Linked DNA regions of Homo sapiens. The protein of the gene in region 2 purifies or fractionates together with the protein of the main gene of each other region. This does not show direct contact. Each region holds a gene or a part of one and is shown on either strand. Other genes may lie near its edges.

Evidence for each region. The genes of interacting proteins can lie anywhere in the genome.
Region 1: the proteins of DAZL (region 2) and ELAVL3 purify together in Homo sapiens (affinity purification with mass spectrometry; one large-scale study listed by BioGRID and IntAct). This does not show direct contact.

The regions. Positions count from the first base shown.
Region 1 is NC_000019.10:11,460,547-11,464,046, reverse strand, and holds part of ELAVL3 (ELAV-like protein 3), read left to right. Parts: intron 1-3,500. UniProt on the Homo sapiens protein: RNA-binding protein that binds to AU-rich element (ARE) sequences of target mRNAs, including VEGF mRNA. May also bind poly-A tracts via RRM 3. May be involved in neuronal differentiation and maintenance.
Region 2 is NC_000003.12:16,587,520-16,592,932, reverse strand, and holds part of DAZL (deleted in azoospermia-like), read left to right. Parts: intron 1-784; coding exon 785-883; intron 884-4,219; coding exon 4,220-4,273; 3' UTR 4,274-5,413. UniProt on the Homo sapiens protein: RNA-binding protein, which is essential for gametogenesis in both males and females. Plays a central role during spermatogenesis.

The DNA of each region.
Region 1 (3,500 bases), on a different chromosome or scaffold from region 2:
AGACTTCGGGTATATCCCTATGTGTCTGTAGGATAAGGTTTTTTTTTTTTGGTTTTTTGATTTTTTGGGGTTTTTTTTGAGACAGAGTCTCCCTCTCTTGCCCAGGCTGGATTGCAATGGCGCGATCTCGGCCCACTGCAACCTCCGCCTCCCAGGCTCAAGCGATTCTCCTGCCTCAGCCTCCCGAGTAGCTGGGATTACAGGCACCCGCCACCACACCTGGCTAATTTTGTATTTTTAGTAAAGACAGGGTTTCTCCATGTTGGTCAGGATGGTCTTGAACTCCTGACCTCGTGATCCACCCACCTCAGCCTCCCAAAGTGCTGGGATTACAAGTGTGAGCCACCGCACCCGGCCCAGGATGACGTGCTTATTATTTGACAGGTGCATGTGACACTGTGACTCCGGCTGTGACCTGATGGGGCCTCAGGGATGCGTCTGGCTCTGGCAGGATGTTTGTGTGTCACCGCGATGTTGTGTGGGTGTGTCTACCTGTGCCCTGCTCTGAGGGATTGAGTGTGATATCGTGTGTTTGTGCTGCGCTGTGATGGGTATGTGGTTCTACGACCTTCACTGTAATTCTCTGAGACTCCCTCCTGAACGTTGCTGAGAATGTGACAGTGGCCTGTGTCACCCTCTGGCTGGTTTCATCTCTGAGGCTGTGCAGCGGGGCGGCACTGCATGGCCTTCTGTCTGTCCCTGGGTGTTTTTGCCTGTGTGACGGTGTTGCGCGGTCAGTCAGGACTGGGCGCTATGGCAGCTGCCCAAAATATCTCCAGCTGCCTGCCGCGGGCCAGGCCCCATCCCAGGGTGGGGTGTGGGTGGAGTTTGGTCCATCCTTGCCCTTGGGAAACCCATGTCATGGAGGGATGGAAAAGGCCTGTGAAAACCTCCTCTGTGTCTCAGACGGTGTTGGACCTCCAATATCCACCCAGGATCTTACCCCCAAATCTAATCCCTCAACCCAAATCTGATTCATCAGCAAGTACCCTCACAGCTCCTAGCCCCATGGGAGAGAAAAAAAGAAGAGAAAACTGTCAAATACATTGACATGATTTCTTTCTTTCTTTTTTTTTTTTTTTTTTGAGACGGAGTCTCACTCTGTCACCCAGGCTGGAATGCAGTAGCGCGATCTCGGCTCACTGCAACCTCTGCCTCCCAGGTTCAAGCAATTCTCCTGCCTCAGCCTCCCGTGTAGCTGGGACTACAGGCGCCAGCCACCATGCACGGCTAATCTTTGTATTTTTTTTAGTAGAGACGGGGTTTCAGCATGTTGGTCAGGCTGGTCTCGAACTCCCAACCTCAGATCATCCACCCCCCTCAAGCCTCCCAAAGTGCTGGGATTACAGGCGTGAGCCACCGTGCCCAGCATGGACATGATTTATTTCTTAATTAATTTATTTATTTTTCTGAGATGGAATCTTGCTCTGTTACCCAGGCCGGATTACAGTGGTGCGCTCTCGGCTCACTGCAATTCCGCCTCTCAGGTTCAAGTGATTCTCCTGCCTCAGCCTCCTGAGTAGCTGGGATTACAGGCGCCCGCCACCACGCCCGGCTAATTTTTGCATTTTTAGTAGAGACGGGGTTTCACCATGTTGGCCAGGGTGGTCTCCTACTCCTGACCTCAAGTGATCTGCCCACCTCGGCCTCCCAAAGTGCTGGGATTACAGGCGTGAGCCACCGTGCCTGGCCTGGCTGTGATTTTAAAAATCATTATTATGGACATGACAATGGCTGATGTGATTTTTTTTTCTGGAGAACCCCAGGTGCACAAAATTATATTAATCAGACCCTGCCCCCCATTCACTCTCAAACTGCTTTATCTATTTTGTTCATTTTTAAACTAGTTATTTCTTTTTTTTTTTTTTTTTTGAGACGGAGTCTCGCTCTGTTGCCCAGGCTGGAGTGCAGTGGCGCGATCTCGGCTCACTGCAAGCTCCGCCTCCTGGGTTTACGCCATTCTCCTGCCTCAGCCTCCCGAGTAGCTGGGATTACAGGCACCCGCCACCACGCCTGGCTAATTTTTTGTATTTTTAGTAGAGATGGGGTTTCACCATGTTAGCTAGGATGGTCTTGATCTCCTGACCTTGTGATCCGCCTGCCTCAGCCTCGCAAAATGCTGGGATTACAGGCGTGCGCCACCGCGCCCAGCTTTAATTAGTTATTTCTAATGGAGGCATACACTCTCACAACTCACTGTCTCAACTCACTGTCCCAAACAAAAGCCAGAAGACAATGACCCCTATCTATCAAGAGGTTAATTAGAAGAAACAGAAAATAGAGGCTGGGCACAAAGGCTCACACCTGTAGTCCCAGCACTTTGGGAGGCCGAGGGTGGGAGGATTGCTGGAGCCCGGGGGGGTCAAGGCTGTGGTGAACCATGATTGCATCACTGTACTCCAGCCTGGGCAACACAGCAAGACCCCATCTCAAAACAAACCCACAAACAAAAACCTCACTTAACAAGAAAAAGAAAGAGGAAAGGAAGGAAGGGAAGGAGGGAGGGAGGAAAGAGGGAGGGAGGGAGAGTGGAAGGAAAGAAGGAAGGAATGAAGGAAGGAAGGAAGGGAGGGAGGGAGGGAGGGAGGGAGGAAAAATAGATACAGCAGACATAAGGGGGAGAATTGCTGATGACCACGCCCCAGCCTCTTCCCCAGTCCCTGGTGACAGGTCACCCACTGAGCATTTGAGAGGTGGACTTCCCTACCATGCTTCCAGGACATTGATAAACACACAATGAAACAAGGTCACACAATATTCCCTGCTTTGTAAATAGACTTTTCTGTCCCCCATTTTACAATACTCACCAGTCACCACCGTTTCTGGGAAATAAATATATATGTCCATCTTTTTCTCTTTTTTTTTTTAGAGACAGGGTCTTGCTCTGTAGCCCAGGCTGGAGTGCAGTGGTGTGATCATAGCTCACTGCAGCCTTTAACTCCTGGGTTCAAGTGATCCTCCAGCCTCAGTCTCCCGAGTAGCTGGGACCACAGGTGTGCACCACCACACCCAGCTAATTTTTTTTTTTTTTTTTTTTGTAGAGGTTGTGGCGGTGGAGGACGGGGGTGAGTCTTGCTGTATTGTCCAGGCTGGTCTCAAACTCCTGGGCTCCCTTGATCCTCCTGCCTTGAACTTCCAGAGCACTGGGATTACAGCCATGAGCCACTGCACCTGACCCACCATTTTTTTAAACACCTGCAGAGAGTTTCGTTGTTGGGTTGGACTATAATTAATAATGTGATTCAGATAACAGTGCTAAAATGTGTCTAATTCCTAGTTAGGAGAAGTGCTTTGAGAAAGAGTAATAGGGGTGGTGGGGGGAGGACAAATTTAGATGAGAGAGGACAGGGAGGATGTTTCAACTGAGACCCAAAGAAAGAAGAGGAGGAAGAGCATTCCAGGCAGAGAGAACAGGCAATGCCAGGGCCCTGAGGCTGAGACATGCCTGGTGTGTTTGGGAAAAATGGGGGAAGTTCAAGTTGCTGGAACACAGTAATTGG
Region 2 (5,413 bases):
ATAATACTATCACTCTTGAATCACATATGTTCTCTTAAATGAGCGGGAGTGTAGAAGTAGTTGATGTGTTGGTAATATGTATAACACTGAAGTCCCATTGGAGTGTAAATTCCTTGATTTGATACTCGATTTTAAAATGCGAATAAATATTAAAATAGCTTACAGTGTAATTTTCAGGTTTTGTCCTGAATATTTTTTCTTGAAACATTGGAGTTCACTTAGGGATTTAACAAATTCAGCTTTTTAAACCAGTATTCTATCACTAAGGTTCTAAAATCTTTGTCAGAAAACTTGCATATTGAGTGATACGTGGTAAGAATTATGAATCACATTTTTATGAATTTCTTTTTTTTTTTTTTTCCCCAAGACAGAGTCTCGCTGTGTTGCCCAGGCTGGAGTGCAGTGGTGTGATCTTGGCTCACTGCAATTTCCACCTCCTGGATTCAAGCAATTCTCCCTGCCTCAGCCTCCTGAGTAGCTGAGATTACAGGCACCCGCCACTATGCCCAGCTGATATTTGTATTTTTTTAGTAGAGATGGGGTTTCACCATATTGGCCAGGCTGGTCTTGAATTCCTGACCTCAGGAGGAGGCAGGAATCCTCCTGCCTTGGCCTCCTAAAGTGCTGGGATTACAGGCGTGAGCCACCACTCCCAGTCTCTTTTAGCATTTTTTGCATTTCTTTAGAAATAAAGTAATATATTCATTAAACTATCAAAAAAAAACCCTTACTAAGAGTGAGTGAAAGAGTCGTCTTTACATTACTGAAAACTTCTGTGTTTCAGAAATCTGTGGACCGAAGCATACAAACGGTGGTATCTTGTCTGTTTAATCCAGAGAACAGACTGAGAAACTCTGTTGTTACTCAAGATGACTACTTCAAGGTATGAATATAACAGTTACGCACAATTAAAAAGCACACTTGTTAGCTTTAAAGTATCTGTTTTCCTTGTGGTATATGTATTTTGAGATTTCTTAGAGCATTTAATTAACTGTTGGCATTTGACTATAACACAGTAAACCAGAGTGGGTTTTACCTGGCAGTATATTTTCTGCTGCTGAACCTTGACATAATGTAGTTATCTTTAGGGAAGAATCCTTCAGCAGAAATTTGTAATTGAAAGGGTTAACTAGAGAAGAGTTAGTTGACTGGCTTGACCAAATAGTAAAAGAAAATTTTAGATACAGAAAGCAGATCTTGGCTGGGTGCAGTGGCTCACGCCTGTAATCCCAGCACTTTTGGGGGCTGAGATGGGTGGATTGCTTGAGCTCAGGAGTTCGAGACCACCCTGGGCAACATGGCAAAACCCCATCTCTACAAAAAATACAAAACTTAGCCAGTTGTGATGGTGCACGCCTGTAGTCCCAGCTACTTCAGAGGGAGGCTGAGGTAGGAGGATTGCTTGAGCCTGGGAAGTTGAGTCTGCATTGAGCCATGATTGTGCCACTGTACTCCAGCCTGGGCAACAGAGTGAGACCTTGTCTCAAAAAAAAAAAAAATACATGCATATTGGACTATAGAGAAGAAAAGAAATGGTTTACTCAGAAGATATACCTGAACAGTGTGAAGGGAGAAAAGGGGTAAAGTGAAGCAGTAAAATGTTGAGTAGAAAGAATTGGAGGTTGATTCAGACAGAGTTGGTAAAGTGGAAGAGAATGTGGGTAGTTGAATTCCAGAAAAATCTGATTTCTGATCCCGCCGTCTATCCATGTTGGATAGATAAATCTTATTAAGACTCCAGTTTTTACAAGTCTAAAATGAGAAGGTACAGGACTAAAGGTTTCTGGGTCCCTGTAGTTCTAAGTCTATGAATAGGAAAAAGAACTAACTTGGTCAGTCCAATGGGAGAGAAATATTACGGTTAGTAAAGGGAAGGTGTTTTTTAAATAATAGGTTTATTGAAATATATAATTGAGATACCAGTAATACAATTTACCTATTTAAAGTTTGCATTTCACTGGTTTTTCATATATTCAAAGTTGTGTAACCATGACCACAATCAATTTTAGAATACTTAAATCACCCCAAAAATCACCCCCCTACCTTAGCAGTCACCTGCTATTTTCCCCCATCCTGTGCAGCCCTAGGCAACCACTAATTTACTTACTTTCTCTAAGGATTTTCCTGTCCTGGACATTTCATGTATATGGAATCATACATAATGTGGCCTTTTGTGACCGGTTTTTTCAGTCAGCATAATATTTTCAAGGTTCATCAATATTCTAGCACGTATCAGAACTTCATTTCTTTTTATTTGTGGCTATTATTCATTCTGTTTATCCATTCATCTGTTAAAGACATTGGGATTATTTCCTCTTTTTAACTGTTAGAAATAATGCTGTGAACATTCATGTACAAGTTATTACGTGGACATATGTTCTTATTTCTCTTGCGTATATACTTGGGAATGGAATTGCTAAGTCATATTTAACCTTCAGTGGAACTGCCAGAATTTGTCAAAACTGGCTACACACTTTACATTCAAAAGGAAATGTTTAACCATCACTTTGTGTCTTAAAACAGAAAGACTAGCTTTTTTTTCATCTGTGAATGGATATAGGATGAAGCTTAAGCCTTTTTAAGGGGTTATTATTATGGATCTCCTGTATAATGTAGAAGAGTAGAGCCGTATAGCAGAATTAAGTTCTTAACATCTTCGCAACAGGGAGTAAACATACTTAAAGTTGACATTTGTTCTCTTGTTGCTTCATTCTACATAGATAGTATAATTTAGAAAAGAAGGAACTGAAATTGTATATCAGCTTACTTTGCCCAAAGTTCTGATGATTACATAGGTGTCTACAGTAGTACTTAAATGATTTTCAAAGCAGAAGATAGTCTTCTGTGGTTTTTTGTTTTTTTGAGGTGACCTCATTTAGTCACCTAGGCTGGATTGCAGTGTAACAATCACAGCTTACTACAACCTCAAACTCCTGACGCAAGGGATCCTTCTGCCTCAGCCTCCCAAATAGTTAGGACTACAGACATGCACCGCTACACTTGGCTAGTTAAAAAGATTTTTTTTTTTTTTTTAAGAGACAGAATCTTACTATATTGCCCCTGGCTGGTCTTGAACTCCTGGGCTCAAGTGATCCTCCTACCTCAGCCTCCCAAAGTGCTGGGATTACAGGCGTGAGCCACCATGCCCAGCCCAGAAGGAGTTTTGAAACTTGAGTTCTCACCTGGTATTAGACAAAAGACTCCCTTTAAACTCCCAGAGTTTTCTGCTTGTTTGGGAGACGAATCAGAAGTTGGCATCCTGTGGTTGTCTGACATCTAGACCTATTTTGATTGACTGCATGTTGTTGTATTGAATTTGAATGCATGAGGTATTTTTGAATGTATTTACTATTTCCATAGCTAATTCCACTCTTCACTGTCTTGATTCTGTAGTCCCTTCATAATCTTGTTTCCTGCGTGACCTGTGAAGATACATGTTGGTGACCAGTTTTCTAGATTTTAACTTAAATAGGATATCACTCTTTTGACAGATTAGGTAACTTCCAGAAGCCACTTTTATTTATATGACAGTGAAACTGAGGTCCTAGGAAAAGGGCACAGTTAACTTTGTAGAAAATAAAATGCTATTATGTTATTACTCATTTGCTTAGTCCCATTTCTCCTTTTAAGGCCTCTCACTTTTTTCTCTCTGCACATCTGTAGGCAACATAGAGTGAAAAGAAAGTTTTGCATGTATTTAAATTTTTTCTCTTTCTTTCTAAAGAATAATACATCTTCACAGGTTAATGATATGTCTTTAAATGCCAAAACTTACATCTTTTAACCTAAAAACATGAAATTTCAGATTGGAGAGCTGTTCACAAGCCGTGGTTCCTATTAGATGCAGTTCAGTCAGTGAAAACAGTATTTTTTAGAATTACATTTTCTACCAGCTGTCTTTGGGACATTACTGCAAAATCATTAATTAAGAAGTACATAAAATGATATTGAGTCTAAGTCCTGTTATTTCTGAGTTTAATGGGATTTCTTTTTTTTTAATTGATTTCTTTTTTAACTAAACTGTTTAATAAAACTAGCCATCCTGGTATATATGTTATCCCAGTGTTCAAGAATGCTTCTCAAAAAGAATAATCTTTTTTCTCATTATTTATAATGTTTAAACCCAAAACAAATGGTTTAAGTTTTTGACAACTTTCAGATCTATAGTAGTAATCAGAAATTTTCAGTAAAGTAAAAGGACTCTTTCTGTCTTTTCCAGGATAAAAGAGTGCATCACTTTAGAAGAAGTCGGGCAATGCTTAAATCTGTTTGATCCTCCTGGCTTATCTAGTTACATGGGAAGTTGCTGGTTTTGAATATTAAGCTAAAAGGTTTCCACTATTATAGAAATTCTGAATTTTGGTAAATCACACTCAAACTTTGTGTATAAGTTGTATTATTAGACTCTCTAGTTTTATCTTAAACTGTTCTTCATTAGATGTTTATTTAGAAACTGGTTCTGTGTTGAAATATAGTTGAAAGTAAAAAAATAATTGAGACTGAAAGAAACTAAGATTTATCTGCAAGGATTTTTTAAAAATTGGCATTTTAAGTGTTTAAAAGCAAATACTGATTTTCAAAAAAATGTTTTTAAAAACCTATTTTGAAAGGTCAGAATTTTGTTGGTCTGAATACAAACATTTCACTTCTCCAACAAGTACCTGTGAACAGTACAGTATTTACAGTATTGAGCTTTGCATTTATGATTTCTCCAGAAATTTACCACAAAAGCAAAATTTTTAAAACTGCATTTTTAATCAGTGGAACTCAATATATAGTTAGCTTTATTGAAGTCTTCTTATCTAAACCCAGCAAAACAGATTCAAAGCGAACAGTCCAATCAGTGGGTCATATGTTTATTCAAAATATTTTATCTTTTAGCTAGAATCCACACATATATATCCTATTTGATTAGGGTAGTAATTAGGATAACTAAAATTCTGGGCCTAATTTTTTAAAGAATCCAAGACAAACTAAACTTTACTAGGTACATAAGCTTCTCAATGAGTCACCATTCTTCTTTTTTGTAAAAACTTTTTTCTTTGAAATGCTAAACTTGGCTGTATGTCAAATTGTGCAAAATATTGGTATTAAAGAATGCTGCAACTTTTTTATGTCTCTTAGAGGTTAATCAGAGTATCTGAAGGGAATTGTTTTTATAAAAACATTGAAATATTAGTTACTTGCTATAAATAGATTTAGTCTGTTATATTTCCTTTTGTAAAGTAAAATATGTCCAGAAGAGTCAAAGTAGTTAGTTTTGGTTATTTCTAAACCACAAAAGTTGTTTAATAAGTATATCTTAAGAATGTGCTAGAGTTAAAAGTTAGCATTGTTTCTAGATTAGCTGGTGTCTTCATTTTACATTGTGACAAACAGCTAGAGCATCAGAGCCCTTTTGCTATACCACAGT